2 linked regions of the Homo sapiens genome follow. The protein of the gene in region 1 purifies or fractionates together with the protein of each later gene. This does not show direct contact. Each region holds a gene or a part of one and is shown on either strand. Other genes may lie near its edges. The genes, in order: ITGA6 and PON2.

The links.
Region 2: the proteins of ITGA6 (region 1) and PON2 purify together in Homo sapiens (affinity purification with mass spectrometry; 3 studies listed by BioGRID and IntAct, with this or other methods). This does not show direct contact.

What each region holds. Positions count from the first base shown.
Region 1 is NC_000002.12:172,469,505-172,484,645, forward strand, and holds part of ITGA6 (integrin alpha-6 isoform b preproprotein), read left to right. Parts: intron 1-1,469; coding exon 1,470-1,601; intron 1,602-3,269; coding exon of another isoform or gene 3,270-3,386; intron 3,387-4,550; coding exon 4,551-4,761; intron 4,762-5,424; coding exon 5,425-5,618; intron 5,619-6,092; coding exon 6,093-6,181; intron 6,182-6,890; coding exon 6,891-7,009; intron 7,010-10,136; coding exon 10,137-10,235; intron 10,236-10,485; coding exon 10,486-10,547; intron 10,548-11,227; exon of another isoform or gene 11,228-12,309; intron 12,310-15,141. UniProt on the Homo sapiens protein: Integrin alpha-6/beta-1 (ITGA6:ITGB1) is a receptor for laminin on platelets. Integrin alpha-6/beta-1 (ITGA6:ITGB1) is present in oocytes and is involved in sperm-egg fusion.
Region 2 is NC_000007.14:95,406,753-95,424,274, reverse strand, and holds part of PON2 (serum paraoxonase/arylesterase 2), read left to right. Parts: intron 1-586; exon of another isoform or gene 587-5,959; intron 5,960-7,977; coding exon 7,978-8,033; exon of another isoform or gene 8,034-8,086; coding exon of another isoform or gene 8,087-8,103; intron 8,104-11,797; coding exon 11,798-11,963; intron 11,964-12,495; coding exon 12,496-12,622; intron 12,623-14,173; coding exon 14,174-14,374; intron 14,375-17,206; coding exon 17,207-17,288; intron 17,289-17,522. UniProt on the Homo sapiens protein: Capable of hydrolyzing lactones and a number of aromatic carboxylic acid esters. Has antioxidant activity. Is not associated with high density lipoprotein.

The sequences.
Region 1 (15,141 bases):
AAAAATCTCTAAATGATATGATTTTTAAAAGCTAATAATAGTGGAATATATGTTTTGGTGTTGACATTCTTTTCCCCTCTACCAGTACTTTACTTTAATTCAGGTAGTTAACTTTTTTTTAGCAGGAATATAATAATTAACATTAGTATTTTTTGCTGTTTTAGATTTGTGCGACTCATGAAGCTGGAAGTGTTAATTTTAAGTTAGTGATCTGAAAACTTAGGAGGATTAAATAATGGTATATACAAATAACAGTGTATTAACATGGACATTAATAACAGAGTATTAATATGGACATTTCTCTCTGTATATGTTATTTTCAAAGGCCATGCTTTGCTAATAATTCAGTAGAGTTAGAAGGGCAGATTACAGACGAATTGGGGAATTTTGAGGTATAATTTCAGATATGTGAGGAAAAGTCGTTTGATTATTGTGATGTGAGTAAATGGAGATGTAGAGAGGTAAAGAAGAAAATGGCCCACATTTTTTGACTGTGTATGTATAGAAAATGCTATATCATAAAAGACAACCTAACTCTCATCCATGATGAAGAGAACTGCATCTGATTTGGAAATAAGCCATTTTTGAGAAATGTATTAATAATAAGTCACATAACACTTTCACTCATCAGGGAAAACTTAGGAAAATGGTCCCTTTTCCATTCAACAATTTGTTTTAATTGTGGTTCTAAATGACTCTTGAACACCTTTCTCTGTGTGCAATCTTCAAGGGTAATTTCCCTTTGCCCCCACCTCCACCCCAACAGAATCTTCATGTACAGTATTTCCCAGGTTATTTTGACCTAACTGAAATAACATGTTGAATTTAGTTTTATTTTAGCATGAATAAATGCTTTATATAGTAAAACAAAACAAAAATATCCACCAATTATGTATATTTTAATTCATGGAAAATATGGTTTACCTGCTTTATAAACCTGACCTAAAATGTCGCCATTTAAAGCCATATAGTGATTTGGGCTTACTATATGAAAACTTATGTTTTAAATTACTAATTGTAAGAATTTTTAAAAGATGAAATCTTGGTTAAAGTGATCTAAAGAAAAGATCAATATGTCTCACTTTTACACTGCAAAAAAAAGACAAATTGAGGCAGGATTACAGAGAATGTAAAATATATATATCAAGTTCATGTCATTTAAAAATTGGTTCTCTGTAGATTTTGTTAACTAAGCAAACCTTCCATTTTTCATCTAGTTTCATGGCATTATAAAGATAGTTCATGAAAATGCATGGGACAGTTTTTAATGACTCAAACAAATTTCTTTCCCATAAAAATTTACACAAATGTATTTTACAACCATAAAAGTCATCTCTGTCCTTCCTTTTTTTCCTCCAAATTTTTTTTCCTGTAACTAGTGATAGCATGGGGGATGTTTATTAGGAACCATTTATTTTCTTTTGTTTCATCTTCATTTTTTTGTTGTTTTTACCATTTCATTCCTTTAGGGATTGTTCGTGTAGAGCAAAAGAATAACACTTTTTTTGACATGAACATCTTTGAAGATGGGCCTTATGAAGTTGGTGGAGAGACTGAGCATGATGAAAGTCTCGTTCCTGTTCCTGCTAACAGTTACTTAGGTAGGAGCAGGCACAGATGGCTGCCTTTGCCCACCTTCTCAGATACCTTGTGTGAAACTCCCTCGCAGGGCCTATGGCCCCTGGACTTCTAGGCTGAGAAGAGGCCAGGTGGGGCCGGGCCACTTTTGCTGGAATTTGATAAGCTTGGTGATCTAGAGGCGTTAAACCGACTGATGCCTGGGATCCTTTCCTTCTGACTGGGGCTCCCTCAAAGGGGGAAGAAACCTCTTATCACCTAAAATCATCCGTCCTCCCTCCTGCTCAGAAGTCTGTCTCTTGAGCTAATGGCAGCCTCCGTAACCTGAAACAGGCCGCTCATGCAGCCATGAAAACATGCATGGGTGTTCACAGTAAGCTGAGATCTTTGTTCAGTGCCTCCTTCCAGAGATACTCTTAAGAACTGCATTTAATAAAGTTACTCTTAAGTGGCAAGTCAAGACCTCCAGGTCCTCCCTCTGTGATTGTGGTTCTCCAAGGATTAGCCCTGCTTCTGGATTGGGACCCCATGTCACAGGGCCCCACAGATGGATAAAAGCTTCCCAGCGGAGGTTGAGCAGGACTGCTAAAACGGCTTTCAGGACACCCAGACTGTGTCTAAGGGCCAATTCTTAACTCCTAAGGCTTGTTTGCATGACTAATGGGTGTCCTAAGTTATTCATGTACATTATGGTAATTACACAAAGGCTTTTAAAAGCTTTAATTCTTGGTATGAGTTGACAAAAAGAATAATTACTGTGCATTTCTTGGAAAAAATGTAAAAAAAAGTCTAAACCCAAATAGTAACCTGTTTAAAAAAAAAAAAAGAAAGTGAAGAAAAGTACCCAGATGTTAGGATATTACTGGAAGAATGGAAAGTAAAAAACGAAAAAACAGGTATAGATACATGAATAATTTCAAGCAATGTGCTAGTAAACACGCACTAATAAGTTGTTCAGGCCGGGCCTGGTGGCTCACGCCTATAATCCCAACACTTCGGGAGGCTGAGGCAGGCGGATTACTTGAGGCCAGGAGTTCAAGACCAGCCTGGCCAATGCAGCAAAACCCCTTCTCTACTAAAAATACAAAAATATTAGCCAGGCGTGGTGGTACACATCTGTAGTCCCAGCTACTCAGGAGCCTGAGGTAGGAGAATCATTTGAGCCTGGGAGGTTGAGGTTGCAGTAAGCTGTGATTGCAGCACTGCCCTCCAGTCTGGGCAACAGAGCAGGACCTTACCTCAGAATGTTTCATTTAGGGATTACTTATGATTAAAATACTTGATTGTAATTGCACTGGCCAAGAAACCAATACTTTGGTCTTTAAGATGGATGGCTGTGGATTTTATAAATTTACTTGCTGTCAGAACATTTGAAAATATGAAGCATTTTTTCTCAAACACATTTGCCACTTTTAGAATGGATTTCCTCAAAAGTGAATGCCTGAGAAAGAAATCAAATTCATATTGTTACATTCGGTTTGTCTGTACTGTGTGGAATCTGTCACTTCAAAAGATCAGAGGGTTTGGGGGAACAAAACGATCTGCTTGAGGTTTTGGAAGCTGGCAATGAGAGCAGCTTGCCGGATGCAGTGGTGGCCTCCTCATCCAGCGAGAACAGCAGTGGCTGTCCTGCCTCTTACCAAGCATAATTACTTTTTCTTCAATTTCTTCCGTCCCGTGCATGCGTACAGGCCTGCTGTTTTTGACCAGCGTTTCCTATACAGATCCTGATCAGTTTGTTTATAAAACACGGCCTCCCCGGGAGCAGCCTGACACATTCCCTGATGTGATGATGAATAGCTACCTAGGTTTGTGACCTCTGCGACGACAAATAAATTGTCTTGGTTGTGGTCATTAAATTTTTTTTTTTGATCCATACAGAGCATAAATCTTTTTATGCCCTATTTTGTTTCCATTGAAGCACACACAAAAAGCATGCCATGGCTGGGGCTCTGTGGCCAGATGGTTGTAAGAGCTGGACTCCATATTGCCCTCTAATCTGGTGGCTCATGTTTTTCAATTCACTTCACAATTTGAGAACTGCAACGGTAGTGGTGAAGCTTTTCATAAGTAAAACCCAATAAAGGGGGTGAGCTTATATTATTCTGCATCTGCCTCACCTTTCTATAGAAACATTTACTTAATTTGAATGGTTTTGATATGGGCACTTCTATTTGCTTTTCACCAGATCTGTTATTTGTAATCTGACATCCTACCTGATGCTTTATAATGGGTGTGTCCTAATGTTTTCTGCCCTCTGAACAAGTATATAACTGATACCAATGACAACTTCCTCACCTCTGTTGTTTATACTAGGTTCTCAAATACCATGTATCATCAGTCATTGTTTTGTCTGCATGTTTGTGTCTGAGAACTAAGTTGGTCCAAAACAATGAAATGCTATCTATGGTGTATTAATGATGTTAGCATTTGTTTTTGTCTGATTACCAAAGAGTTGATGCCTCTTACCAAGCTTAATTACTTTTTCTTCAATTTTATTTTATTCCTGTAAAAATACTGGTCATTAAATTACAGCAGAACCCTGTAACATGCACTCAATTATGCTTCCAGTCAGGTTATATATTCTCTGTGTATATGATGTAACATAACCAAATTATTCCTGGACAATTCAGTATCTAGCTTGATCTCCTTTTACCATAGTTCCAATATTAAAATAGGGTGGAAATTGATTCTTAAGATGTATGAATACTTCAAAATTCAAGTTATACATAGGTGCTTTTAGTTAAAAGTCTTAATATCCATAGAAAGCAGTAAATTAGCTAGCCCCAGGACTTTGTCCTTGTGTCACATCTGAACTCTGTCACTCATATTACGAATGTGATAGCTGGTGGGAGGGTCAAGAGGAGAGAGGGGTGGGAAGCCAGAGGAAGAGGTAATGATGGAGTTACCAATGTCATAGGCCTAAAATATATGGATTGATGTGAGGGGCTCTATATATTTTGTTTTTCTAGGTTTTTCTTTGGACTCAGGGAAAGGTATTGTTTCTAAAGATGAGATCACTTTTGTATCTGGTGCTCCCAGAGCCAATCACAGTGGAGCCGTGGTTTTGCTGAAGAGAGACATGAAGTCTGCACATCTCCTCCCTGAGCACATATTCGATGGAGAAGGTCTGGCCTCTTCATTTGGCTATGATGTGGCGGTGGTGGACCTCAACAAGGATGGGTGAGAAAGCCTCAGGTTATATTATGCTGCAAATCATTTCTGCTTTGACTAGCTTCTATACGACTGGAGAAGAGCCGTCCTTTCAGGTTCATTGACGTAAAGAATATTTTTATTGCCGCATTTTTACCAGCCTATCTTTATCATTTCTATGATGGCAGCAGACAGACATTCATATCCCTCCCCAGCGTATAGGATTATATTTTTGATTTTCAGTTTTTACTTATATGTTGGGATCATGAGTCTATGAGAATTAAAATTTGAAAAAAATTGACTCAGAAAACACTTGCATGATTCTGTTCTGTGGTTTCATATGGGGCTGATGGAGCATCAGCTCCCGTTGAAAACAGGAATTGGTGATAAAGTAAAAAACAGATATGTGGCTGTTGGTGCCAGTTGGGGGGGTTAGAACAGTGAGGTCTTAATGGGAGTCCTGCTGTACTATGGTTCTAACTCGAGAAATTGGCTTTGAGTTCTTACCCTTAGTATTTTTCTTGGGGCGTTTATTATAGGCTACCTTGGTTTTTAAAAAATGTTATAATTGAGTCATAAATTCTGGAGTTGAGGGCCTTTCTATTATATGTCTTTGTATCCTTAGTACCTAGACTGGTGTTGCTGGTATGTTAGCTGTTGGTTCACGGCTCTTTCCCCTCATTATGTTTTTAGGTGGCAAGATATAGTTATTGGAGCCCCACAGTATTTTGATAGAGATGGAGAAGTTGGAGGTGCAGTGTATGTCTACATGAACCAGCAAGGCAGATGGAATAATGTGAAGCCAATTCGTCTTAATGGAACCAAAGATTCTATGTTTGGCATTGCAGTAAAAAATATTGGAGATATTAATCAAGATGGCTACCCAGGTAGATAATAGATTATGAAATGGCTATGATTTATAGATTATTTGATTGTTTAAATAATAGCGCTGCTGGGCACAGTGGCTCACGCCTGTAATCCCAGCACTTTGGGAGGCTGAGGTGGGCGGATCACCTGAGGTCGGGAGTTCGAGACCAGCCTGACCAACATGGAGAAACTAAAAATACAAATTAACTGGGTGTGGTGGCACATGCCTGTAATACCAGCTACTCCCAGCTTTGGAAAGCTGAGGCAGGAGAATTGCTTGAACCCGGGAGGCAGTGGTTGCGGTGAGCCAAGATTGCGCCATTGCACTCCAGCCTGGGCAACAGGAGCGAAACTCCATCTCAAAAAAAACAAAAAAAAACCCCGAAAAAGCCAAACAAATAAATAATAGTGCTTGTGTCATCTTACTTTAAAACATTTTACTAGAGTGTTTCTAAAGCGTTTGTTAAAATGTTAAAATGTGATGTTGTCAACAGATATTGCAGTTGGAGCTCCGTATGATGACTTGGGAAAGGTTTTTATCTATCATGGATCTGCAAATGGAATAAATACCAAACCAACACAGGTAACCAAATAACCGGGATTTCTACAGCTAGAGTCTCAACTTTTTGCCCTATAATAAAATATTTAGGTTTAAGTGACTTTTCACACAAATCTTATTTTATTTACAAGTCCACAATAGTATAAATTTTTTAAAAATGTATTACTAGAAGATACCTTCAAAATAAATATATAAATGTAATGACTTGCTTGTTCTAATTGTAAAATTTCTTAGATAAGTTAGGAATCAAGGTAATCCAAAGCAAATGAATGTTATTCTACCCTGACGGCATTAAGATAAGAGGAAATACGATATATTCTCTTTAGTAGCATACTAAATAGAGATGAAATTGGTCAAACAAAATAAATGACTGTAACTACATGGAGAATGTAGACACCAAAAATTAAAAATGTCTTTTGAGAAAAATAAGACTTGTAGGGAAGGTAGGGAGATTTGGTTTGAAATGGCCTGATTGACTTAATACAATAAACAAGCTCATCAGAAATGGGCTCTTTTCTGCTTTGAGATACTATGTAAATCGGATGACTTTTATGAAATGAAATGTATGAAGTGTTAGATCATATAGAAATTTATGACTTGTATATAATATAATTTACTTATAAGTGAACTCTCAAATTTCAGTTCAAAAGAAACTTGTGTGTCTTTTTCAAAGCATTGTTAAGAAGCTCATGGTGATAACCTAATGTCCATTCGGATGCCCTGTGTATTTCAGGTTCTCAAGGGTATATCACCTTATTTTGGATATTCAATTGCTGGAAACATGGACCTTGATCGAAATTCCTACCCTGATGTTGCTGTTGGTTCCCTCTCAGATTCAGTAACTATTTTCAGGTCTGTTATCTATGATTTTAGTGTTAAGCATGTTCTATAATCAGGTTATACTAAAATGTTGACCTTTTGGACTGAAATTTGTCATACCTATACTTCAAAGGTTTATATGAATTGTGAAGCTATTTCTTTTTCTTTTGAAGTTAGTAAACAATGTAATAACAACCTATTTTCTAAAATCTTTTAAAGTATCTGAGGAAAACATAGATCCAAGTTAGAATTTTTACTTCATATATTTTTAAAACCTTAATTTTGATGATGAAAAAAACAAAACACATATAAAATGTGACAGTACAAAGAACATACAGAAGGAAACCCCCTATAATTCACCATGCATTATTAAACTCCAAGATCTTGATTTCTATTTTATTTTCTGTGATTGGACCATGTATATTTAACAAAATTAAGACCATAATTGTGCATAATTTTGTAACCTGCTTTTGTCTCTTTAGGATACATAGTAGACTTTTCCTATGTCACTGAGTACTTTTCCAAAATGAAGTTAACAACTGTCTGTGAGGCATCTTCTGACAGGTTCAGAGCTTATTTAACCAACTGCCTTGCTCTCACTGGATGGTTACGTTGCTTCGCAATTTTTTTTTTTGCTCCCATGATATAAAAAGCTGTGGAAAACATTCTTACTTTTGTTTATATCCTTGATTATTTCCTTATTATAAATTCCTGGATGTGAAATTGATATATGTGCTTCAAGACTTTTGATTCGGTTTCGCCAAGATGACCTCCCAAAATGGTGCGACATTTCCCATCCGTGGTGTTTGAGTCTCCCTTTAACCAGCGCTTTCATCACTGCTGGAAATCACCATTAAAAATTGGAGGCTTTTTTTGGTTTGTTTTTTAATTTTCAAAAAGTAGCAGATTTATTTTTTTTAAAGTTAATAATATAGAATTATAGAAAATCCAGTACATTATTCCCATCTTCCACAAAACTTGTGTGCATTTCTCTACTTTTAGGGTATCATCAAAAGGCTACACTGTAACTTCTGCTGTCTAATCTGGTTTTTATTTAATCTTGGGCTATCTCTCCTTGTCAATACAATAGATGACTTAACTTTAGTCAGTTAAATGTTTGCCCCTGTCTATGTGTAACTGATATTTTAATATCCTTACTTTCCTGTCCTCATAAGTAGGTTGACTGTCAACCCTGTACACTTGTTCCCTCTTTACTTGCAGATAGTGTGAAAGTAGAATTCAACAACCCTTTGATAAGAAGAGGAGTAACTTCCCCTTATTTTACAAATGAGGAAACTGAGGCCCAGGACTTGGCTTGAGCTTTTAAGGCTGGAGCCTGAGAGGACAGAATGTAGCACCTAAATCTTCCTGACTTGAATCCTGTGCATTTTTTCTACTAAATTGTACTAGCACTTCAGGGTAGTTAGTAAATAAACACCAATTTTAAACATGAGGCAGCCAAACTAATAAGACTTATTTTCTATGTTAAAAGACACAGTTTTCATAATTCATGTATATTTTGCCCTCAAAATTGTGTGTTGTATGTTTAAAAAACAAAATATGTTCTAGGCAGAAATGTCTGTTAAAATTCTACAGTATGTAAAATACTATATCTGTGGCAACTGTGCCTTTTAAATATGCTCTCAAAACTTAAGAATGTATCTAGTTAGTATCTTAGAACCTAGCAGCTGTCTAAATGTAAAATAAAAATAGAATGGTAAACAATAAAGGAAAATGGAAAAACAGGGAATGTGGGCAGTATTTGACCCTTTATTGGACCCTACCTTCACTGTGAATGGACTTGTGCTCTAGCCTACCAACAGATTGATTCCAGAAGTTCGAGCTAGCTGTTTGGGATTTGGAATGCATTTTCTTGTAGAAACACTGTTCTCCAGAATGGCTGGGTTTACCACAAGCCCATCAGAGTCAGCCTAACTGAATCCACGTGGTAATGAAACCCCAGGCCCCATTCTGAGTTCTGGTGGGGAGCAATGGAGGTGGGCCTCCTCACCCACTCATACCCCTCAACCCACCGCATACCTGCATTTCTTGTGCCTGTGGCAGCAGTTGGGCCACAGACCCGTGGAGACCCCTGTGGCTGCTGGGAGCAGGGCAGCCAAAACATACGAAAAGATGTTTTCAGATGGTGAACCAGAGTAGGGCGTGGAATTGGATTCCAGCTTCTCAAGTGTTTGCGGGGTTGCAGTAGGCAGCGCAGAGATGGGAAGAAGTTTAAAAGTTTAAGTTTTTGCTTGCAGAGATATCGTGGGGGTAGAAAAGTTGTCAATCCTGGCAATAGGAAGGCAAAGACTGAAGGTTGTGGGTGGGAGACTCCGAGGGAGGCTGAAGAGAAGGGCAAGTGTTTGTACAATGGAGACTCCCAAGTTCAGGATTGCCTGTATTAATTCACATACTGTAGACACGCTGATCATGAGCATCTCAGGTATTAGGTGTTTGTTGGTGTAATTCTTCCAGAGGGTATGTTGGCAAGACTACTCGTAATTAAAAATGCACATATTCTTTGACTCCAAAATTCTGCTGCTGGGAATTTATCCCACAGATAAACTCAAGTGTGTGCACAGATGATGTTTGTGAAAGCAGAAAGCTCAACAACGTGAATGTCTACCGATTAGGTACTGGTTAAATAAAGGATGTTACACTGATACAGTGTAACGCCATCAGGTGTGAAAAACAGTGAACTAGATCTATGTGTATATACAGGACAAGACCTCTGAAATGGATGAGAAAAAGCCACATACAGAACAATGGCAATTAAGTTCCCATTTAGTTGAAATTATACATATATTTTAATATTTAATTTTAGATAATTTTAACTGACGTGTCTGGAAGAACATACAAGGCTACTTGGGTGTTCGGGTGGGAATGGAGACAAAATATTTACTTTAACCCCCACATGTTGCACATGTACTCATAAGTGTGTACGTTTTTAAACAAATATTGTATAATGAGGCTCTGCATTGTATACATTTATATCTATTAACAGTTATTTTCTTCAGCAATGGGGGAAAACGTCACGTGTATTTTTTTTCCTGTGTTTTTAAGCTGTGCTGGGCAGCTAAGGATGCTCTCTAGTATGTGAATTAGACTCACATTCAAGGTAACAGAGGCTGAGCTTGTTTTTCACTCCTTTTGTCTTCAGATCCCGGCCTGTGATTAATATTCAGAAAACCATCACAGTAACTCCTAACAGAATTGACCTCCGCCAGAAAACAGCGTGTGGGGCGCCTAGTGGGATATGGTGAGCATCCCTCTGTCTTGGTGGGATCCCCCTCAGTTTCCCACCTCCACTTCATGATGACTCTATTGTCCTGAGGAGCCACAGGGAAGATGACAGGAGTGCTGGGCAAAGGGAAGAGGGTCTGTCAAGTGTTTTTATAACATGTTGATCATCAATGGGCATTGGGGGGATTGGAGAGCTAGGGAACATGTTGGGTTTTTTCCACTGCAATAATGGATCTTTTAAGAAATATGTGTTTGATTTTATTCAGCCTCCAGGTTAAATCCTGTTTTGAATATACTGCTAACCCCGCTGGTTATAATCCTTCAATATGTAAGTACCTAGTACCTTTAAAATATGTCTACTTTCTGTCTGCCAGGTTGAAAGTTCTGCATAAATCACAGAAAAATAAAACTGCAGTGGCCAACATGGGTCTGTCAATTCTGGTGTAAAGAATTAAGTGTATGTTTTGTCTCCCTTTTAATCAGGAGGGCACAGCACCGTGAGGGAGGAAAAAAACTCCACTTGGTCGCCATTTGAGTTTTCCAGAGCAGATGGTTTAGGACAGAATGGCTTGGAAAAGTACTTATTTGCTACCACAACCATTTCCTCCATTTCTGTCTTTGAAAAGCAGTGTGGAAAATTGATTTTGTGGTTGTGAGGTGGTGGGTGGTGGCTGGTGGTTGTGAGGTGGTGGGTGGTGGCTGGTGGTTGTGAAAGGGCAACGGCAGGAGCCAGAGCACAGCACAGAGTCACTGCCAGGCTGCCTTCTCTTCCCCACGCCCCTCCCTCCCGGAACACCCGCCCTGTGTTCCCAAGAGCAGGCCCCTAGGGAATTTGCAAGCCGGCCCTGAGAGGTCAGAGACCTGGTCTCTGCTCCTGGTTTCAGCTTTGATACTGACTGACCCACAGGGCAAGTCCCTTAACATATGAGTTTGCTTTCCTGTCCGTTCAGAACAATGCCTAGTAGTCATTAGTGCATACAGTTGTGCTGGAGATCAACTGAGAAGACATGAAAAGCACTTTGTCATTTATTAGATACTGTTCTGCTTCCTTTTTTTGTAATTCAAAGTAAGATTTTTTTAAATTTTTGTGGATACATAGTAGGTGTATATATTTATGGGGCAACACAGGATTTTTGACAAGAATTTTGACACCGTTAATGATACTCTTAACAATAGTGGCCGTCGTAAGCTCTCCTCTGGCATGTTTTAATAGCAGCCACACTTCTTCAGCTGTGAGTCACCTGACCCCTGGCTCCAGAGTCAAGGCCAGGGGCATAGGAATTCCAAGAAAATCTTTTCTGCAAAGAGGAAGTGAAAAGAATGAGGAAATTCTCAACCCGGGTCCGGCCATGGTCCTGGCAGTTTGGGATTCTAGTGTACTGTATCTGCCACCAAGGGACACTTTGTGAAGAACAAGGTCATTCTGTCCTTTCATATGGTTGTCAGCCTTTACGATACTATGAGGTAATGAGTCCTCTGAAGTGTTCTCCCTGTTATCTAAAGTAGTAGTTTTCTTTATTTAAAAAGATGTCCCTTATAATATTCCAGAATATAACCTAATTCAAATAACCTAAAGTTGTTGCTTGAAACAGGAAAAAATAGCCACATAAGGACTAGGGTTTGCAATGGTGAATCCTCTCACACGTCACAGCTCTGTTCTTAGCTGTACTCTAATTCTTCTTTAACTTTATATGAAGTTTTATATAACACTAATGAATGTATCCACTAAGACAACAGAATGAAGATACTGACCTGTGATAAAGTTCAGTGAATTATGAAAAGGGACAGTTTAAATAAATGTACTGTCTTTAATTTTTTTTAAGTCCCCCTTCACCTGATTCTCAGTGTCATAAGCTCAGTTAGCCTTCATCTTTCCAGATTTCGAGCTGTCTGCAGGTGGTTTCTCCGTCTCCCCTTCTGTGGGGTCGTCTCCTGCTGTGTGGTCTCTCCATGGGACCTGCAGACCTTGCACGAAGCATTCTTAGAGTGGATGGATTATGACTTCGTGCACAGGGGGAGCTGTGGCCTTTTGCTTTGCTTTTTGATGCAGCCGGCATTTTGTCGAGTGTAGAAAGCAATTCTTTGTGTGGCTTTTAATGACAAGAAAATGTATACTGTGACTCTTCAGGATCTATCATCCTTTCAGTATCATTTGTGTTATTTTTACCCAAATGCCATACCTTACACTAGCCCACTTGGATAATGGGCCCTTTGCCAGTGTTTGGAATGAATTAGAGAGACAAGGAGAAAACAGTGATTCTTTGACTAGGCAGCCAGAGAAAAAGGGGAAACATTTTTATTCTGTTCTGATGGCCATTTTTTCAAACCACTCTCAGTTTGACTGTAGATGTGAAATATCATCAGAGCACTCCTTGACTTCCCCCAAATTAATCACCTATATAAAATACAGACTTTCTCCTAGCTGTAGCACAGCATTTGATGCCATGTGTATTACTTTTATGTTATGTAGCTACTCCATTAACCAAGTGTTTATGGATGGCCTTTTATGGGTGGAACTTTCCTTTGAAGACATTCAAAGAACATTTGCTTTCATTGCTTTTACTTCCACAGTAAATTCTAAATGAACTAAGACAGAACTTCTACAAAGCTACATAAGTTAATACATCTAAAATCTTCTCCCAGTAGCCAAGAATGTGAGCTTATTGTTTGACTGGGCTATTTTAGCTCAGCAGTCCTCAGATGTGGTGTTCCATACATATAGATATCTATAATTGAGCCGTAATGAGTGTTCTACTTGGCTTGCCCCTCAAGCAGTTAGCAAAGGTGGCCTGCAAAGATTTTAAGATGATGTGGACTGTCTGGAGGGTTAGGGAAGGTTAGAGTGAATTTGGCAGATAAACGGTTTTCCTGCACCCACACCTCCCATACTTTTGCTGTGAGGGGCACTTTTGCTGTGAGGGGCACTCAGCGTGTGAGCCTTTATCTGGTTCATTGTGAAGCTAGCAGGTCACTTATAAATGGATGATGTCAAGGCTGCAGAGGCCTAAAATGGGGGAGCATTCCATTTGGCAGCTGTGACATTTAAGAATTCTCCAGATGGACACAAAAATTACTATTGAAACTGTCAGTGTTTCTAAATTTTGTTCTGAATAGCTCACATTCAGCATAAGAATGTCACATCGTGTGTGTGCGCATGTGTGTGCAAGTGGGGAACCAGTTACTGCCACTTCTGTTCATCTGTTCCATAAATCATATGTCTATCAGGTGTTGTGCTAGTTGCTGGGGACTGTGGTGGGGAATAAGACTGATGTGATCCTTGTCCTCGGCTTTGCCCCACTGTGGGAGACAATCAGGAAATCACAGCGTAGTGGGCTTAAATGTAGAGACTGGAGAGATGGAATACTCTAGGATCGCGAAGAGAGGCCAGGACAGGCTTCCTGGAGGAGGTGAGGTCCAAGCTGAAATCTGAAGGGGAAGGGAGGGCTTAGCCAAGCAGGCCAACACTGCTGGGAGGTGGAAGGGAAAAGAAGGGAAAGACAGCTGGCTGAGGGAAGGAGTGACTCCTGCGGTGGTTAGGAGGCAAGTGAGACCTGGGCATCTAAGACCCTGTAGAAAGCAATCGCCTTTTGTGTTTGTGATAGAGACTCAGAAGCTGGTGCTGCTTCTGTCCCTCTCAGTATGACCCCAAGCCTCCCCAGAAAAGGTCTCTTCCAACTCTAAAGTGAATATTAGAATGTGAGTTATTCATTTTCTGTGTTTTCTGTAGCAGATTTTTGTCCTGGAGATTGCCTTCTCCAGCCCTCTGCACACTTTGGTTTGCTTTCCCTTTTGATGGTTAGTGACTGCTTAATGAATGTAAGTAATTTAAGTATTGGCCCATGAAAAACAAAGTTAGCAGCCACATCTAATGAACCAACAAAGAATGCGTTCTGAAGTAAAAAAATGAGATTCTGATCATCCACATCCTAGCTTCCCTCCAGGTTCCATTAGTGTAGGTTATCAAGAACAGGCTGTGCCTTCTAGCCCAGTGCAAGGTAGGCAGTTTGGTTGTGGGAGCTATATTATGCTGACCGACAGGCCCTCCATCCACTCAAAAATATATAATTTACCTTGTAATTCTTTTTTATCTTTATTATTATTTTTTTGAGAAAGTTTTGCTCTTGTTGCCCAGGCTGGAGTGCAATGGCATGAATTCAGCTCACTGTAACCTCTGCCTCCTGGGTTCAAGCGATTCTCCTGCCTCAGCCTCCCGAGTAGCTGGGATTACAGGCATGCGCCACCAAGCCCAGCTAATTTTTGTATTTTTAGTAGAGACAGGATTTCACCATGTTGGTCAGGCTGGTCTCAAACTCCTGATTTCGGGTGATCCACCCACCTTGGCCTCCCAGAGTGCTGGGATGCCAGGCAGAATTCACTGTGCCCATCCTCTTTTTTATTTGTTAAGGTAAAGGTCTCATCCTACTGTCGAAAGACTTCTCCATCTCTAAAATATATTATTCCTCTGTTTAGACAACTATCCTTTATCAGTGCTTCTTAAAACTTTAATACGTATAAGAATCATCTGGTGATGCTGTTATTAATAAAGCAGATTCTGCTTCCGTAGGTGTGACTGGGCCTGAGGTTCTGCATCCTCACAGGCCCTCAGGAGATGCTGCTGTTCTAGAGATCTTTCCCAGATAGCAAAGGCACGAGGCCACTTGAATAAGCATTGACTGGTTTAAAGGGAGAAAATCAGTTTAGGTGCTCGGGGGAGTGTTGGGTTCCTCTGCTTATCGTTAGTATTCTGTGGGTTCATGAACTTCAGCCAGAAACTGATTCTTAATAACTGCTGCTGCTGAAAGGTTTTAACTTATTCTTGAGCTCCCCCAGGTGGCACAATGAAAATTTAACTTTGAAACATTGTTAACAGCAAAAGGAAGGAAAAGACAGCTTGATTTGAACCATCACAATTGTGCAAATGC
Region 2 (17,522 bases), on another chromosome or scaffold:
GCTTGTTTTGTGACTTCTCTGAACTATTTTTGTTGCGTCTGTATTGTTTGTCAGGTATGGCCGCTGCAGTCTGTGTTCTGTGAGCCTTGTGGTCAGCTAGTGAAGGAAGCTTTATGTAGGCAGTGACAGCATTTACCCTGCTCACTACTCTATAACTAGGATCTGATCTTATGGCTAACACGTAACTGACCAATATGGTTTGGTTGTGTCCCCACCCGAATCTCATCTTGAATTGTAGTTCCCATAATCCCCACGTGTTGTGGGAGGGACCCAGTGAGAGGTCATTGAATCATGAGGTGGTTACCCTGTGCTGCTGTTCTCGTGATAGTGAGTGAGTTCTCATGAGATCTGATGGTTTTATAAGGGCTTTTCCCCCTTTTGCTCGGCACTTCTCCTTGCTGCCGCCATGTGAAGAAGGGTGTGTTTTCTTCCCCTTCCACCAAGATTGTAAGTTTCCTGAAGCCTCCCCAACCACACGGAACAGTGAGTCAATTAAACCTCTTTCCTTTATAAATTACCCGGTCTCAGGTATGTCTTTATTAGCAGCCTGAGAACGGACTGATGTACCGGCACTTCACAATATGTATTGTAAAAACTTGTTTTTATTTTATCTTCTAAGCTATGACTGCAGAGGGGGAGTCTCCCTCTTCCCTTGACTTTATGTAGGATGTATTGTGGAGTCTGAGTCTTTGAGTAGGGGTTCCTAAGAGCAAGCCCCAATTTTGCTATAGATAAGGAGGGATCTGTCCAGATTCTTCTCCAGCACTGAGGGTCTCTCTGGTGTGTTTGCAGTTTTTCTCCAAGGTAGAGTCTGTGTCTTGCTGTCTTTTACCCTTTATCATCTACTAAGTACATGTCCCTAGTACATAATAGACTAGTAGTTAGATTATCAATGAACAATAAATATTGGCTTTCCTTTTTTTTAAATTTTAATTTTTTTTTTTTTTTTTTTTGAGAGGTGGCCTCACTTTGTCACCCAGGCCAGAATGCAGTAGCGCAATCTTGGCTCACTGCAGCCCTGATATCCTGGGCTCAAGCGATCCTCCCGCCTCGTCCTCCCAGGTAGCTGAGACTACAGGCACATGCCCCCACTCATGGCTAGTTTTTTATTTTTGTAGAGACAGGGTCTTGTTATGTTGTCCAGGCTGGTCTTGAACTCCTGGCCTCAAGCAATCCTCCCAGCTTGGTCTCCCAAAGTGCTGGGATTGCAGGCATGAGGCACTGAGCCCAGCCAATATTGGCTTTCCTTAGATATGGTTCATGGTATGATTAGAAACAAAAAGAATTAGCAGTCAAAACACCTAGTTTCTAGTTCTATTCTGCCACAATGTAACCTTAGGCAAAGTTGGTTTTTGTATTTGTCACCTATAATGATGAGTTTGTGATTAGACTAATGGTTTTTAGACTTTAAAAAGCCTGGGACCATTTATTTATAATCTTACTCTGAGAGCCACAGTGTGGAAATAACTAGACTGTCATTGAGTCACTTCTAGTCCTTTACAACAACATCCTTCTCTAGAGGTAGGAGAGACAATTTAATATTTTGTTTTACTCTTTAGAAATTAAAACTCGGGTTACATGGAAATGTTCTCTTCTCTGAATAGGTAACATTGTTAAACAAGTTTTGAGTGTCCTTCCATCTTTTTCTTTTTATGAATACTCCTGTACATAATTTTTAAAAACATAAGTGAGGTCAAATTATGCATAATATTTCAAAACTAGCTTTTTGTACTTAATACTAGGTTTTGGAAACTTATGTTTGTACATAATGTTACCTTTTCTTCACAACTGCACAGTATTTTTTGTGCAAAGTTCATATAAACAGTGTATGTGCAAACAATATAGAAAGATATAAAATGGAAAGTAAATAAAAATAAAAATCTCTCATCAAACTCTTCATCACCCCCAACAGAAATAACCCCAAAGATAAAGCTCCCTTTTTTATCTTTCCTGATAGTTTCAGTGCATTTGCAAACAAATATATTGACTCTTTTTTTCACAAATAGAATTTTAGTGTAAATATTTCACAACCTTCTTCATTCCTAAAACAGTGTGAGCAGCTTTCCACATCAGCATATATAGTTACTTTGTTCTTTTTAATATTTTCACATTCCATGATTTATTTAACCATTCCCCTTTTAATGTACATTTGGGTTGTTACAGTTTTTTGCAACTATGAACAAATCAGTGAACATCATTGCTGTTGAGTTTGTGTGTCTGTAGAATATGTCCTTAACAATGGGATTGTTGTTCCCTTAGAATATGTGTTTAGAGTTTTGACAGTCATTGCTAAGTTGCTCTCAATTTGGCAACAGTAATAAACTCAGTACCTCATAGTTGTAACCACATTCACTCCAGACAGAGTTCTCAGCACTCTTTTAGTAAAAATAAACCATCAGTTGACAGTGCCACCTTCAGAGTTTCTCTACAAATACCTTGCTTGCCTCCCTTTCTTTTTTTCTTCTTTTAAATCAGCTTCCTCAGGTTGATCTGCCTCTCATTCCTTAGGCATCTGTTTCCTATGTGTTCTTTCTCCTTTTTTTCATTGATACTTTTGTATTTCCCCAGTTCTACCTCCCCTCCCCTAGACTGGTTGGCTGTCCTGGAATTTCCCTTCCTTCTTTCAATTGCCCAAACACTAAGTGGGAGGAGGCAAACTCATATCAAATAGCAGATTGACTACATCTGTGCTGGATCATGCAGACAGTTCAAGAGTCCCAAGTAACTTAGCAGCTTCATCTTGCCTTCCAGCTGCAATCAAGAAGAGCCCTCTCAGAACTGGTCACTCAGCAAAAGCCAGATGGCATTAGTAAAAGATGTTGGGCAAGGGTGGGAGTTTGGGCCAGTGATCTCTTAGGTTACTTTTGCTGCTGAGTTAATAATTGTCACATTATTAAACAGCCCTTGGCCCTGGGAAGCCCACCTTCTGTGAATACAAGTCTCAGAGTAGACAATAGGGCACAACCAGCCATGTTACATGACAGACTGCCAAGTGCATTCCTCTTACAACTCACTGGGATGGAGCGCTCCTCAGAGAAAAACAAGCCCAGCAACATTTGTATTCTGAACAGGCATCTGTCTATGTTTGTGACCTTTATGTTGTGATGTGTGTGAGCTGCTGTCTGGAATTGGAAAGAATGAGGAAATATGTCACCTATGGCCCCTCTTGTGAAGTGTTAAATGCCTCTGAGGCACTTCAAAAGGCAACAGAGCGGAGAGGATGAGTGATTAGAAGCACATTTGGGATACATTTTTAGATCTAATTAGAATTGTCCTTTTTTTTTTCTTTTTTGCTTTTGCCCTGTGGTTAGCACACACCATATGAACGTTTGTCGAATGCTATGTTAGTGATGCATAATGGTTAATAATAACTTTTGGTTATATATCTTTAACAACAGTTGCTTATTCACAGGTCTTTGATAAGAAGAAATAACAATGTGCTGGACACACATTTCTATACAGGCAAAAGTGACTTTTTATGATAGAGAGGGCTGTTTCTTATTTTCTGTTTTGAAAACAGTAGTAGCTATGCACTTGAGGCCAACTAATCCCTCTAAGAGGTGAACCTTCCTTCCCCCTTGCCCTTGATTCCCATCAACACACACATACATATGCACACACTACCGTGCTTCAGTCACCATCACTGGAAGTGAACTATGTGCAACTTTTGGGTGCTTTATATATATCATATCATATTGTGTCTGCTTTAATAAATCATAGTTATTGACTACATATCATACAGGATGTGTGCCTTCTGTGGGTCAGAAAATAAGTTCACTATTTAGTCCTTTTCAAAAATTCCTTCCCGATCTATCTTATAGACAGAAACTAAGCTTTTATACACCCAAGATTTGGCAGATTAACATCTGCATATTAAAATGTCAAGAGCTAGTTAACTTTATTTGAGGCTTAAAAGTTAAAAAATCTGATTTTCTAAATGTCTGGCCTTCAAAATTTGAGTGGACTGTCTTTCTCAAGATAACTAACAATTTTATGCACTTGGCAGTCAAGACCTTTACAATAACTGCTGCTTGGGAGATTGAGGGGAAAAAAGCATTAAAGTTTGTGGCCCTTATAATCAAGTACTTTACAGTCTACTGATGGGAGAAAAGGAAAACAAAACAAAACAAAAAACCACTGTGAGATATAGATATGTCTTTTCTTTCTCTAGCAGATAAGTACCTGAGGCTCAAGGAGGTTAAGCAACTTTTGCAAATTCACTTTCCAATATAGTGTCTTTTCCCAGGGTGACTAATGTATATACTTGATGAGTGAACCAGAAAAGTAGGAAATAATATGTTACATATGGGATGCTCTATTGGGTATAGTAAAGGATGCGTTGCTGTTATAAAATTATAGTCACTTAGAAAAGAGATGTTTATTTTTATTTTTCTCTCATCAGTCTTAAGGTAAGTGAATGGCCTAGGGTAGTTAGGTGACTGTGTTCCATATGGTCATTCAGGGGCAAATGCTGATGAAGCAACACAGCTGTCTTCATCTAAGACTAGAACTCTGCTTGTTGCCATTTCCCAGCAGGAAGGGGTTGAAAGAAAATTTATGTAGATTTTTTTTTCTACCCAGTAGTTGCATATATATTGTATTCTCACATCCTATTGACCCAAACTTAGACATATGGCCACATCTGTCAGCCAGAAAGGGTGGGCAATGTTATCTATAGCTGTGTTGCTACGTGCCTATTGCTAAAAAGGCTAAAAAGGAAGAAGGGGAACATGGATGCTGGTGAACACTTGGCCACCTCTGACACAGATAATTGCTAAAGTAATAAGAAGAGATGGAAATTAAATGTGCTAAGCTAGGAGACTTTCTAAAGAAAGGGTTTGTCATGCTACGCTGTGCCATTCATGTGTTTTTTTGCTCATGCTGTTCCTTGTGCCTGGAAATTCTCCCCCTAATTCCCCTGAGCAGTGGATGCAGTGGATACCCTCCCCAGATCCCCCCCAACTTCCCTGAGTGTTGGCTACCAAAAGCTCTGAGTGCACCCAGGGAGCTAAGTCCTCCTGCCCACAGGCAATAATGGACTGACACGGGGTAGACTTAAAGAAATAAGAGGCACATCAATCAATTGAAATGTGTGGGACCTTACCTGGACTCTGAATTAAACAAACTGTAATTTTTTAAAGCTACACCTTTTAAACATGATTGGCTATTTGAACACTAACTAGATATTTGATGATATTGAGGAATTATTGTGAATTTTTAGTGTAGTAATGATATTGTGGTTTGTATAAATATATTTAGGGATAATATGATGCCTCAGATTTGCTTTAAAATAACACAGGATGAGGATAAGTGGTAGGACTGCAAGGGAAACAAGACTGGCCATGAGCTGATAACTGTTGAAGGTGGGTACTGGGTATATAAGGGCTCACCACACCATTCTCTTGATTTGTGTCTATTTCCCATAATAAAAAGTTTAAAGAGAGAGAACCGATGAAGGGGAGGGAGAGAGTCAAGCACACAATAAGAGTGACAAACAGTGCCAAATCAGCCCACAGTATTAAGTTTTCACATATTTACATAAATATCACCTGGAATGCAATATTGAAATTAATGTATATCACTAGAATAAAAAAAGTAAAGATTTAATAAATTTGTTTTGAAATAAAATAAGTTGAAATACGAAAAAGACAGAAAAGGTTTTGAAAGAGGTTTTAAAGAAAAGTGCAGGATATTCATTGGTAAAGATGTTGGTGAGAGGCTTGGAAGCAAAACTTCAGGGGAAAAAGACAACATATGGAATTGACCACAATTGAATTTACAAGTGAAGTGGCTTTACAGAGGAATCAGGGGATGTTTCTGAGAGAGGAAATTCATTAAATTCTAACTTGAATATTTTCTGTTTGCCTTTAAGTCAGAGCAAAGGCTTTGAGTCCCAGCTTCCCAGTTTGTGACCTTGAGCAATTGCTTAACTTTTCCAAAGCCTCCAATAGTCTTCACTCTAAAATAAAAGATAATCATATGAGATATTGTATGCAGGGTATTTACAAGGAGCCTGGTACTTGGTGTACCTAATGTATGTTAGTTATTATTATTAAATTAGAGGAGCAAAAATTTCTCTAGCATTGACTGCTCCTGACATAATCACACCGAAGAGGGGATACACGATGATAAAACCTTCCTGCAGTAGTGGCTATAGAAATGATGACGGGGAGAAGATCTGGAAAATATTCCAAAGAAGGCTACAGATAGATACATTTTTTCCATTGGAATTAGGCAATGGAGTTAAACAGAAGTTACAATATGGTTGAAATAAATGTATTTTTTTAAAAAAAGATTTCTCTTTCCTTAATTATTAAAAAATATACAATTTTGTAGAAAATTTTAAACAAAGTATAAAGAAAAAAATAAAAATCATTCATAATCCTATCAAAGAAGCATTGTTAATTTTTTCTATATATCTTCTTTTTCCACGTGTATACTTGGAAATTAAATTTTCTAAAATAATTTTCAGGAAAAACAAATTTTAATTAATTGAGCTTCTACTAAATAGGACTGAAAAGCAAAACCTGGACTAGAATTCTCTCTCGGTGTGTGTGTGTGTGTGTGTGTGTGTGTGTGTGTGTCTGTGTGTACATGTGTATGTGCTGTGTATACATGTGTATGTGGTGTAGCGTTCCCCTGATTCTTAACTTATTACCAGTGGACAACCACCGTGGAACTAGAGTCTAGTCATTCTTAACCTTTTTGGGGGAATCACAGTCTCTTTTTTGAATCTGATGAAAATCAAGGACCGTTTTTACAGAAACGTTCTCATCTGTGCATACATGAGACATTTTGCATTGCATAGAATTTCCGAGGGTTCACAGATACTTTGAAGCCCAAAAGTGATCCACAGACCCCAGATTGAGAACTCCTCCGCTATGCCATGCTTAAGCTTATTTCTGTGTATCTTCTTTCTGAGGAGCAGGCAGATGGGTCATCTTTACAATGTGAAGTTCTTGGCATTTTTATTTTGTTTTGTTTTTCTGCACTACGATGGAGCAAGCAACACTGGAGGCAACTGGCTAAATGCAAACTCATGAAGCAAGACCAAAATGGCTGGATAGATAGATGCTGTTTGGTTTTGACAACCTAGAAATAACCTTGAAGAAATCCTATGGAGAAGTCTTAAAGAGGAAGATTGGATTTTGTAGACTCAAAGAATGTGTCATGGTTTGGCTTAATCTAAGCCATTTTTATTCTTCTTTTCTTGTGTTTGGGTCTATTATCTGTCTGTAGAATTTATACAGTGAGACTGCTGGGGAAAGTCTTATGTCTAATTATTTGCTGTGCTGTGTGGAGTGTACTGCAGACAGTCAATAAACAATCAATAGTAATTGTAGCCTGCCTCAGAGACAGGAGTTAGAAACTTCAACTGGCTTAGGTGCATGGTATTTTTCATTAATTTTCTTCTGCTAGTTTTTTTCTCTAATTTAAAGCCTAAATTTAAAGATTAAATAGAAAAGCTTTCTTTGCTTATGAGCACAAGTAGGCACTGTTTTTAAAAGAAGGAATATATAATCCCAGGTGTTTTACCTCTGTTAATGAGAAAGATGTCTGTTTGCTTCAGATTGAATGAGCAAAGAAGAGGACAAGGATATTTGCATGGTTAAATGCCTATGAGCCCTTCCTTCAGAAAGTAATATTCCCCTGATGTCAATTACTTTTATACGGACATCTGGATGTTTATCATGAGAGTGTACAGATGTCAACTTTTTCAGTATTATAGCTGGAAATGTGGTGATAACTTGACTTTGATTTGAGTAAACATAAAATATCTAACATTTAAAGTCAGAAGTTCACTTCAGGAAGGGGTTTAAACTGACATTTATTAAAAAGAATGGTTCCTTGGAAAAAACATCAGAACCATCCCTAAAGATACAGTCACTCTGATAAAGTAAACAGAGTCCCAGTTATGCTCTGTGTAACAAATAACAGAACTTGAACATGACATTTATCTGTTCCTTAAACTTACAGAAGCTGGCTCTGAAGATATTGACATACTTCCCAATGGTCTGGCTTTTTTTAGTGTGGTGAGTGTCTTCTTCCTTCCCCAAATTCAGCAGAGGAGATACAAGGGTATTTGATGAGGGCTGCAGAACAGTAAGTTGCTTTTAAAATTCATTTTCCAAAATGCATTCTGAAGAAAAGAGAGGTCAAACAAGATCTTGGAAAACTTCCTCCAGCTTTTCTAAATGTAGAGATGAAGACTCTTTGCCCATTGAGATAGTGTTCTTTATTTCCCCATTGCATTGCACTAAAATATTCCAATGCAATCTGTGTTTTGTTTTGTTTTTTCTTTTTTAATTTTTTTTATTTTTTGAGACGGAGTCTTGTTCTGGTTGCCCCGGCTGGAGTGCAGTGGCATGATCTCAGCTTACTGCAACCTCCGCCTCCCGGGTTCAAGCAATTCTTTTGCCTCAGCCTCCCGAGTAGCTGGGATTACAGGCGCCCGCCACCATGCCCGGCTAATTTTTGTATTTTTAGTAGAGATGGGGTTTCGCCGTGTTGGCCAGGCTGGTCTCAAACACCTGACCTCAGGTGATCGCCTGCCTCAGCCTCCCAAAGTGCTGGCATTACGGGAGTGAGCCACCACGCCCAGCGCAATCTGTGTTTTAAATGTGCACTATTAAGAGGGATATTTGAGGTCTTACTGTGGATACTCAATACTAACATTATACTATTTTAAATACAGCATCTACTCATCTTTCTATTACTATTCAACTTGAAGCAAATATTCTTGCCATTATTATTTATTTTCAAATATTATACCAACCTTGCCCTTTTGCTTTCTTTCTTTTTTCCCCTGAATAGCCAATCATAAGTGGAAAGTCATTGAGTTTATTTACACCCTTCATTTTGCCTTGATTCTTGTAAGCTGAAAAACAATATCCTTTCTGGGTATACAATAGAAAGACTTTAAAAACAATTGGCTTGTGAATATTGTTGTGAATATTGTTGAAACTAGCTTGTAACAATGTCCATTCTAATTGGAAATCCAGATAAGGGGACAGATGAGGAGGTTCTGACCACCTACCTCCCTGGCTTGGGCAGACATAGGAGTTCTTGGCATCTTCATAGGTCCAGTTTTTCTGGAGGAAGAAGTAACCAACTCTGACACCTGACTGTAATTATTCCATTTCCTCTCAACATCCATTATTTTCAGGCTCTGAGACTCAAGAGGGATGTGAAATACTGGGAGATACTTAGAAGGGAGTCACCACACTAATAAAATAGTTGTTAGACTTATGAGAAAGGTGAGAGAACTCAGGTTGGAGTAGAATGAGAATTAGAACACTCTTCAGGTTCCTGATGGTTTTTATGTGAAAGACAGTGAGCAGCTGGTTATTACCACTGAGGCAATAAAGAGATACTGTGGGCTTTAGCAGAAACACCAGTATATGTATTTAGTTTTTAAAATAAGGTTTTAAAAGGAATGTTTTATTTAATTGCCTACACAGAATGAATAAAGTGATATTTATAGTAGGACTCTGGGTTTGTTTAGGAGCACATGCTTGCACATGTGTGGCTTAGGAAAAACCACTGGGACCACTAGTCTAAAATATTCATAAGTAAAGATGCAAACATTCTGAATAAAGTAGAAGGCAGTTGCATTGATTTTTTTATTTGTTTATTTGTGTTTTTTGTTGTTGTTTTGCAAGGATGTGTTCTTGGAGATTTTTATAATCTAGAATTCACCTATTTCAAGATTTCTCTCCAGCCCCCATAGTAATAAATCTGAAGTAGGAGGGATGAGGTCTCCAAACACATAAATCTACAGCCATTTTAGCTTGGGGGCATGTTATAGTTACAAAGATCTTATAGCCATATCAATAGAACTTTTTCTGCTTTTTTTCTGTTACCCTCCTTTGCTCATTTGACTTTTTTTAAAATTTAGAAACATTCCCAGTTTGCTGCTGTTTTTCATTTACTTGGCATTGTCTCTAATAAAACCTAGAGTGTACTCTCTTCTAAATAAAGAGGTCCTACATTGTGGAGGTTGTTCATTCTTCTTCCTAGCATTTTAGCTCATCTAACCCAACCTATTTTACAGTTATGGGTTGAGGGTCACCTCAAAACTAATGTCACACTTCATGAAGAATTGGATGACATAGAATAAAATATAAAAAATGTAAACAATGTGAGTGTGCTTAACACCACTGAACTGTACACTTAAAAATGGTGAAAGTGATGAATGTTGTATGTATTTTATCATAATTAAAAATAAATTTTTAAAAAGAGAAAAAATACTTAAATAAATAAGGAGTGCGAACATAACCATGACTAGTTATCACCATCTGATAGTGCTTCCTTTGCATGTAAATCATGCTTTTGTTTTGGGGACATTCATAAAGAATAGGGATTAACTGAAGTGGCACTGCCATGTAACAATAGCATAATTCCAGTTTGTTCTACTTACCAGGCTTGCCCTCCATGAAAATATACAATTGTAGATAATCTTTTTTAATTGGAGAGATTTCCTCTTATGTCCAATTTTATACATAAAGTAAGACTTTTTTATTGTGTGCCTAAATTTGTGTAAATATGACTGCATCGTATTAGTAAACTGAATTAGGTAGTGCATTCACATAAAATTTAACATCACCAAGAAGGCTTTACCTTAAGAATGTAATGATGAATCACCATTTTAGATAGACTGATAGGTAATTTATTAACTGATTTAAAAGAGAAAAGACCTATATCATCTCAGTGAGTACCAAAAAGCATTTAATAAAATTCAATACTCATTCCTAAAGTTCCAAGCAAACTAGAAAGATAAGGAAAATTCCCACAAAACTACAGCAAACATCATTCTTGATGGTGAAGCATTGGCTGCATTTGCATTAATGCTCAGAACAGGAAGAAAATACCCAACACCACAACCATCAGTAATCTACTAGAGTTCTTAGTAATTCAGTAAAACGAGAAAAAGAAATGTGAGATAGAAAAGAAAAAGACAAAACTGTCATTAGAGAAGCAGGGACTGGCTCAATTGCCCAGGCTGATGTGCAGTAGTGCAATCATAGCTCACTGCAGCCTGAACTCCTAAACTCCTGCGCTCAAGAGGTCCTTCCACCTCAGCCTTCCGAGCAGCTAGGACTACAAGTGCTCACCATAACACTCAGCTAATTTTTTTTTTTTTTTTTTTTTTTTTTTTTGTAGAGACAGAGTCTTGCTATGTTGCCCAGGCTGGTCTCAAACTGCTGGCCTCAAGCAGTCCTCCCACGTCAGCCTCCCAAAGTGCTGGAATTATAGGCATGAGCCACCAGGCCTGACCTAAAGCTGTAGTAATTTAAAAAGTGTTATATTGGCACAGGAATAGACATGAGACATTAAAATAACAAAACAGAGAGTCCCTAAATAGACCAATATGTAAATGTCAGAGATCTAGCACATGATAAAGGTGATATTTTGAATCAGTGGGAGAAGGATGGACTGTATGCCAGGCACTGTTCCAGGCACTGGGATCTAGCAGTGAACAAATTTCCACAGTCAGTATGTAGATGTCACTTTTCTCCACCCTCAGCTCTCCCTGGAATCACCTAGTCCACCAACCTTCTGATTACTCTCTGAAGAGAATAAATCCCTGATCTTCTTTTCAGTTATTTTCAGGCTTTCAGTATTCCACCTCCCCGTTATTATTTTTTCTGTTATCTTTTCTCTGTTTTTTGAGTTTTTGTGGCTTTATGCCACTACTTTAACCACAATCTCTATTTATCCTTCATGTACAGTTCCCATGTTAGTCCATAAAAATACTTAAGCTTTTGTATTTAACATTTTTCACCGTTTTGGAAAGGGTCTAAAATTCCCAGGACTCCACAGCTTTGCACCAGATAAGCCTGGAGGAATACTAATGATGGATCTAAAAGAAGAAAAACCAAGGGCACGGGAATTAAGAATCAGTCGTGGGTTTGATTTGGCCTCATTCAATCCACATGGCATCAGCACTTTCATAGACAACGGTAAGAGCCAATGGGCTACCAACATTTAGTAACGTGTGATGGTTCACAAATGACTGTGAAAAATAGATTTGGATCATATTTCTAGGAAGAGAAGAACAATTAACTCATGAGTGATTTCTGTATTCTTCATTACAAAGAACTTGTTCATTTGCCTCTTCAGCTGGCAGTAAGTTATGCTACATTTTGAAATTCCTAACAGGTAACACCTGAAAGAATGTTTAGATTTCATAATCTTTTCATATACCTACGATCATCACATTTAAAAAAGAACTGTATTTTTGAATTAAAGTAGAAACAGATTATGCATGAATTCTGTATATGGAGTAGGAAACACTTTCTTAAAGGTCAGGGAGCCAATGATCAGAAATAACACCAGACGGACAGCAATAGGAAAGACAGAGAATGATCTGTTAGGTCGTCTAACAGCTTATACATTCAACCTTTCCTTGCCTGTGGTATTTAAATGTCAGTGCCTGCCCAGAGGTCCCGTAGTTATGTCTTGTAAATTAACTCTGTTCTTTCAATTCTTTAGATGACACAGTTTATCTCTTTGTTGTAAACCACCCAGAATTCAAGAATACAGTGGAAATTTTTAAATTTGAAGAAGCAGAAAATTCTCTGTTGCATCTGAAAACAGTCAAACATGAGCTTCTTCCAAGGTACTTCCTCATTTTGTTCCTTCTCTAATTTATCCCCAGCATTTGCAAACAATCCCTATGGTGGGTTGTCCTGTCATCTTTTATAAGCGCTAATGTATATATTAGCTAATATGTAAGAGCTAAAGAGCTTATATTTCCTTATTTATAAATGTGTGTGTATAGTTTCCTTATAAACCAGGGCAAGCATGGCATATGAAAGTTGATGTCACTCATACTATTCACTGTTCTATGCGGACTCCTTTGAGAAATGATGAAGTGCCCGACTACAGGGTGATACTCTTCAGGCCCATCTTGAGGGTAGAAGGCAAACCCTAACATTTTTTCCTGCTGTCACCCTCCATCTTAGATGACTCATCACCCAGATGAGTGTCTTGCCAAGGAAGAATGGCCTGTTTTTTATTGGGTTTGTATGCTTTGCATGGGACTTTATACCAATCGCTTTCATAGGGTTAGTGATGGTTGCATGCTAGTAATCCCACAGAATTAGAGCCACTCAAGTTGAGAGTGAGTCATTACACTTCAAGAACATAAAGCTGGTTGAAAATGTGGCTAAGAGAGAATCATGTGTACCCCCACCCCCAGTTCAGTGTGTATTAGCCTACTGCTTCTTTTAGTTTAAACTTGATGAATATTTTTAATTTCTAATGAAATTTCATTTCTAATGAAATTAAAAATATTGCCTATCTAGGGCCTATCTATGCCTATCTAGGGCATAAGCATGTAACTTCCAATCATTCCTTCCAAAAATGCACTTGATAAAAAAAAATAGGAGCATAAATACCATCCAAGCATTATGGTGCTCTTTCAGAAAAATGAGACCTACCTTCCCTGTAGCTCTATATTTTTCATTTAGCAAAGAATAAAGCAGCTCTTTCAGAAATTTTTGCATAGAGTAATTGGAATTTAAATTTAATAACACCCTCACCTAACTGGTCTTAAAATGAAATTGTTTTTAGCATATAAATCTCTCACCTGAAGCATTGTACTATGGCAATTTTATCATCCATCTCTCTGCAAGTGTTTATTGAGTGCCTGTTCATTCTCGGCATGTCAGCTTTGTGAAGCAGGTAGAAATTGAACAGTCAACCTTAGTTTGACTAATAACTAAGCCAGGGAAATTAGAAAAATCCAGGAACTGAGTAAATGGAAGCTAGGTAAATGTTACTGACTGCCTAACCAGCTCACCAGCCAATCAGGCTCTCTCCAGCTCTGTACTGTGGACAGCTCTGTCCTTACGTATAATTGTTAAACCCTACATTTCTTGCTGTCAAAAAACATGCCCTGATGGCACTAAGTTCTTTCTTCTCTTATGGTAATCCTGCCATAATTGCTAAATGACCTGTGTTCAGATTACCTGGTACCATACAAAATTGTTCTCTGGCAACAATATTATAGTATATTGTATATGACTATAGTCGTGATTTTTAGCTCGTCTTTTCCTCTTACCAAAAATTTAAAGCACATGTTGCATAAATCTTATGAGTACTTAATATTTAATATGGAGACCAACAGGCCTTTTGTTTCCTCTCACATGCTATTTTTCTTTTTCAGTGTGAATGACATCACAGCTGTTGGACCGGCACATTTCTATGCCACAAATGACCACTACTTCTCTGATCCTTTCTTAAAGTATTTAGAAACATACTTGAACTTACACTGGGCAAATGTTGTTTACTACAGTCCAAATGAAGTTAAAGTGGTAGCAGAAGGATTTGATTCAGCAAATGGGATCAATATTTCACCTGATGATAAGTATGGCCCCTTATAGAATATCTTCATTTTTCTTCAGTTGTGGTGCTGGCCAAATTCTTTACTTTGCTTTCTTTGTCAATGTGAAAATAGTTTTCTTGACATTTATGGTATATTATACATATAATATATAGATACACTATATATATAATTATATATGTTTTGTATATATATTTACATATACTTAGTCACATGTATTTATATGCAAATACAATACCATATTTAAGTAAACTATATAATACAGTAATATATATGTATTTATATATAATATATAAAGTTTGGAATACATCATTGTCAAATTTAATTTTATAAATATAAATTTTAAAGTGTGATCATACTGATGCATACATATTGAAGTATCAGGTATTTCCTTTTAAATAAATGTATTATTTTTATTGGCTATACATTATTCCATTATAAGGATGATCTTAAACTAATTTAACCAATTCTCTATTGATGGATATGTGTATAGGGGTGGGGAGTTCTACATAAAAAATATTTTATACTTCTTATTTACCATGGAATTTTAAACAAGTATTTTTTTTAAAGAAAAAGTCCCTAGGAGAGTGTTTTTTTTTTGTTTTGTTTTTTGGAGATGGAGTCTCACTCCGTCGCCCAGGCTGGAGTGCAATGGCATGATCTCAGCTCACCTCAACCTCCGCCTCCTGGGTTCAAGTGATTCTCCTGCCTCAGCCTCCCAAGTAGCTGGGATTATAGGCATGCGCCACCATGCTTGGCTAATTTTGTATTTTTAGTAGAGATGAGGTTTCTCCATGTTGGTCAGGCTAGTCTTGAACCTCCAACCTCAGGTGATCCGCCCACCTCAGCCTCCCGAAGTGCTGGGATTACAGGCATATGCCACCACACCTGGCTCTAAGAGAGTATTATAACATAATGGTTAAACTTGCAGATTTTGGACTCATACAGGCCTGGGTTCAAATCCCACCCAGGGCACTGGCTAAATGGTTCTATGAGCTACTTTTCTGTAGAACAGACCCCTAGAAATAGAACTATTTGCTCAAACAGTGTGATTCTTTTAAATGTTAACTTTAATAGATATTGCCAAATTGTCCTCCAGAATTATCTCATTATTTTTATATGCACAACCACAACCTATAAGAGAAGATATTAAATTCTTGATAGCTTTCTTATCTACTGCCTCAGCACACTGAAAAATTTAAACTACTACAAATACAACATAAAATAAATTTGGCACTCCTTGACAACTAAATGCCCTTATTTTTGTAATCCAATTTCTCCTCCTTTCTTGTTGACTATAGAAAAAGAATGTAGAATCATTTAATTTAAATTGTCTCTAACTGACCTGATCCAACCTCTGCAGCCAAATCTGTTTTTCACTCTTATATTTCCATTATGAGAGTCAAACTTTCCAATCACCCAAGCTAACAAAAAAATAACAATAATGAAAAGGGAGAATCAGCTTTTACTCCTCTTTCACCATTCCTATCCAGCCTGTAGGCAGGTCCTGTTGGTTCTACCTGTGCCTCCTTCCTCTACCCCCAAACTCCTTTCCCTTTGAGTGAGACCTGCCTAATTTAGGTTGTCATCCTCTCTGACTAGCATATGAGACTTTCTTCCAATTTGTTTTCTGTCTACTTGGATTTTTTTCACTCTTGCCAATTTTGTCTGTCTATCTCTATTAGCCTTGAAGGGCTCCCCAAAGAGGGAACTCTGTCTTCCTCACCTTTGACTCCTTATGCCAGTACAGTGCCAGGCACAAAGCAAATGCTCAGGAATTGTGGAACAGAACTGACCATTTGTTGCCACTTTATTATTCTAAGATTTCAGTGGAATCCAATTGCTTATCAAATCAAGGCAGGGTAAAGGGTTGGACTTTGTTTAACAGGCCACCTCCAACCTCCCTTTTCTACTATTTCCATGCTTTCTATGCTTTAGACAAAGAACTCATTGTTTTAAACATTCCTTCCTCTTCTTGCTCCTGTGATTCTGCTCTTGTGCTTGCTTCTGCCTGGGAAGTGCCTCCTCCGTCCTCATCTCAAATCTCATCTCTCTTTACACAGCCACTGCAGATGCCCCTTCCTTGGTGAGCCTTTCTGTGTCCTCGGAAGTTAGCTATTTCTAGACCTGAACTATTTCTCATGCTTATTAGGTGTTTAATGTGTACAAACCAGTGAGATTTGTTCCAACACACTATAAACTTTCAAGGAGAGAGGCTGTGTCTTCTTCATGTTTATATCTGCTGCAACACTGAGTTCATGGCTTTTCACACATAATTGCTCAACAGAGCAGGTGCCATGGAAAGTCAATTCAATGAGTAAAATTACCTCAAAATAGTCTGTTAATTCACTCACCTTTGAAGTAGACAGATTATTCTGCATTGATACTTATCTCTTACTCTTAAAATTCGCTATGTATTAATAAATATTTTATTGAATATTAAGGAATGATCACTATTTTAATAAGATGTTCTTTACCATATATTTCTATATGTACATGATAATTAGAAGTATCAAATTATATTGTGGAATGTAAAAGCTTTTCTTCTGAAGCCAAGCATTTGTTTTATTGTCATTTCAGTGGCAAATATGGACTTCATATTCAAAATGATGTTCTATATTATTTTTCCTTACAAGCTTTTTGAAAAACAATTTAATAATTCCATGATTGTTGTAGCACCACTGAATTGATTCTGAAAGCTTACTTTTTAAATAAAAATTGACCTTTATCAAGCATTCCTTGAGGGCCCATGATTGATTAACTTCTTGGCAGGTTATTAAGACTTATTCTTTCACACTGTATTAATGAAGCTTTATATTGGCATGGAGCTCTAACCACTGTGTCCTTTCTGCAAAGGTATATCTATGTTGCTGACATATTGGCTCATGAAATTCATGTTTTGGAAAAACACACTAATATGAATTTAACTCAGTTGAAGGTAAAATATTTATTTTTACATATAGACAGTAATCTATTATGCTTTGCAATGACATAGTTTTTCTATAAGAGTACCACACGTAGAACAAAATATGGATGCCAGTGTAGCTATTCTGGGTTTTTAAATACTCCCTACAACTAGAGAAAGCTCCTGTTTCCAGCGATCTCAAGAACTGACCATGATTACATGCAGCAGCAGGTTGAGAGTGATATTCATCAGATTTAGGGCCCATTC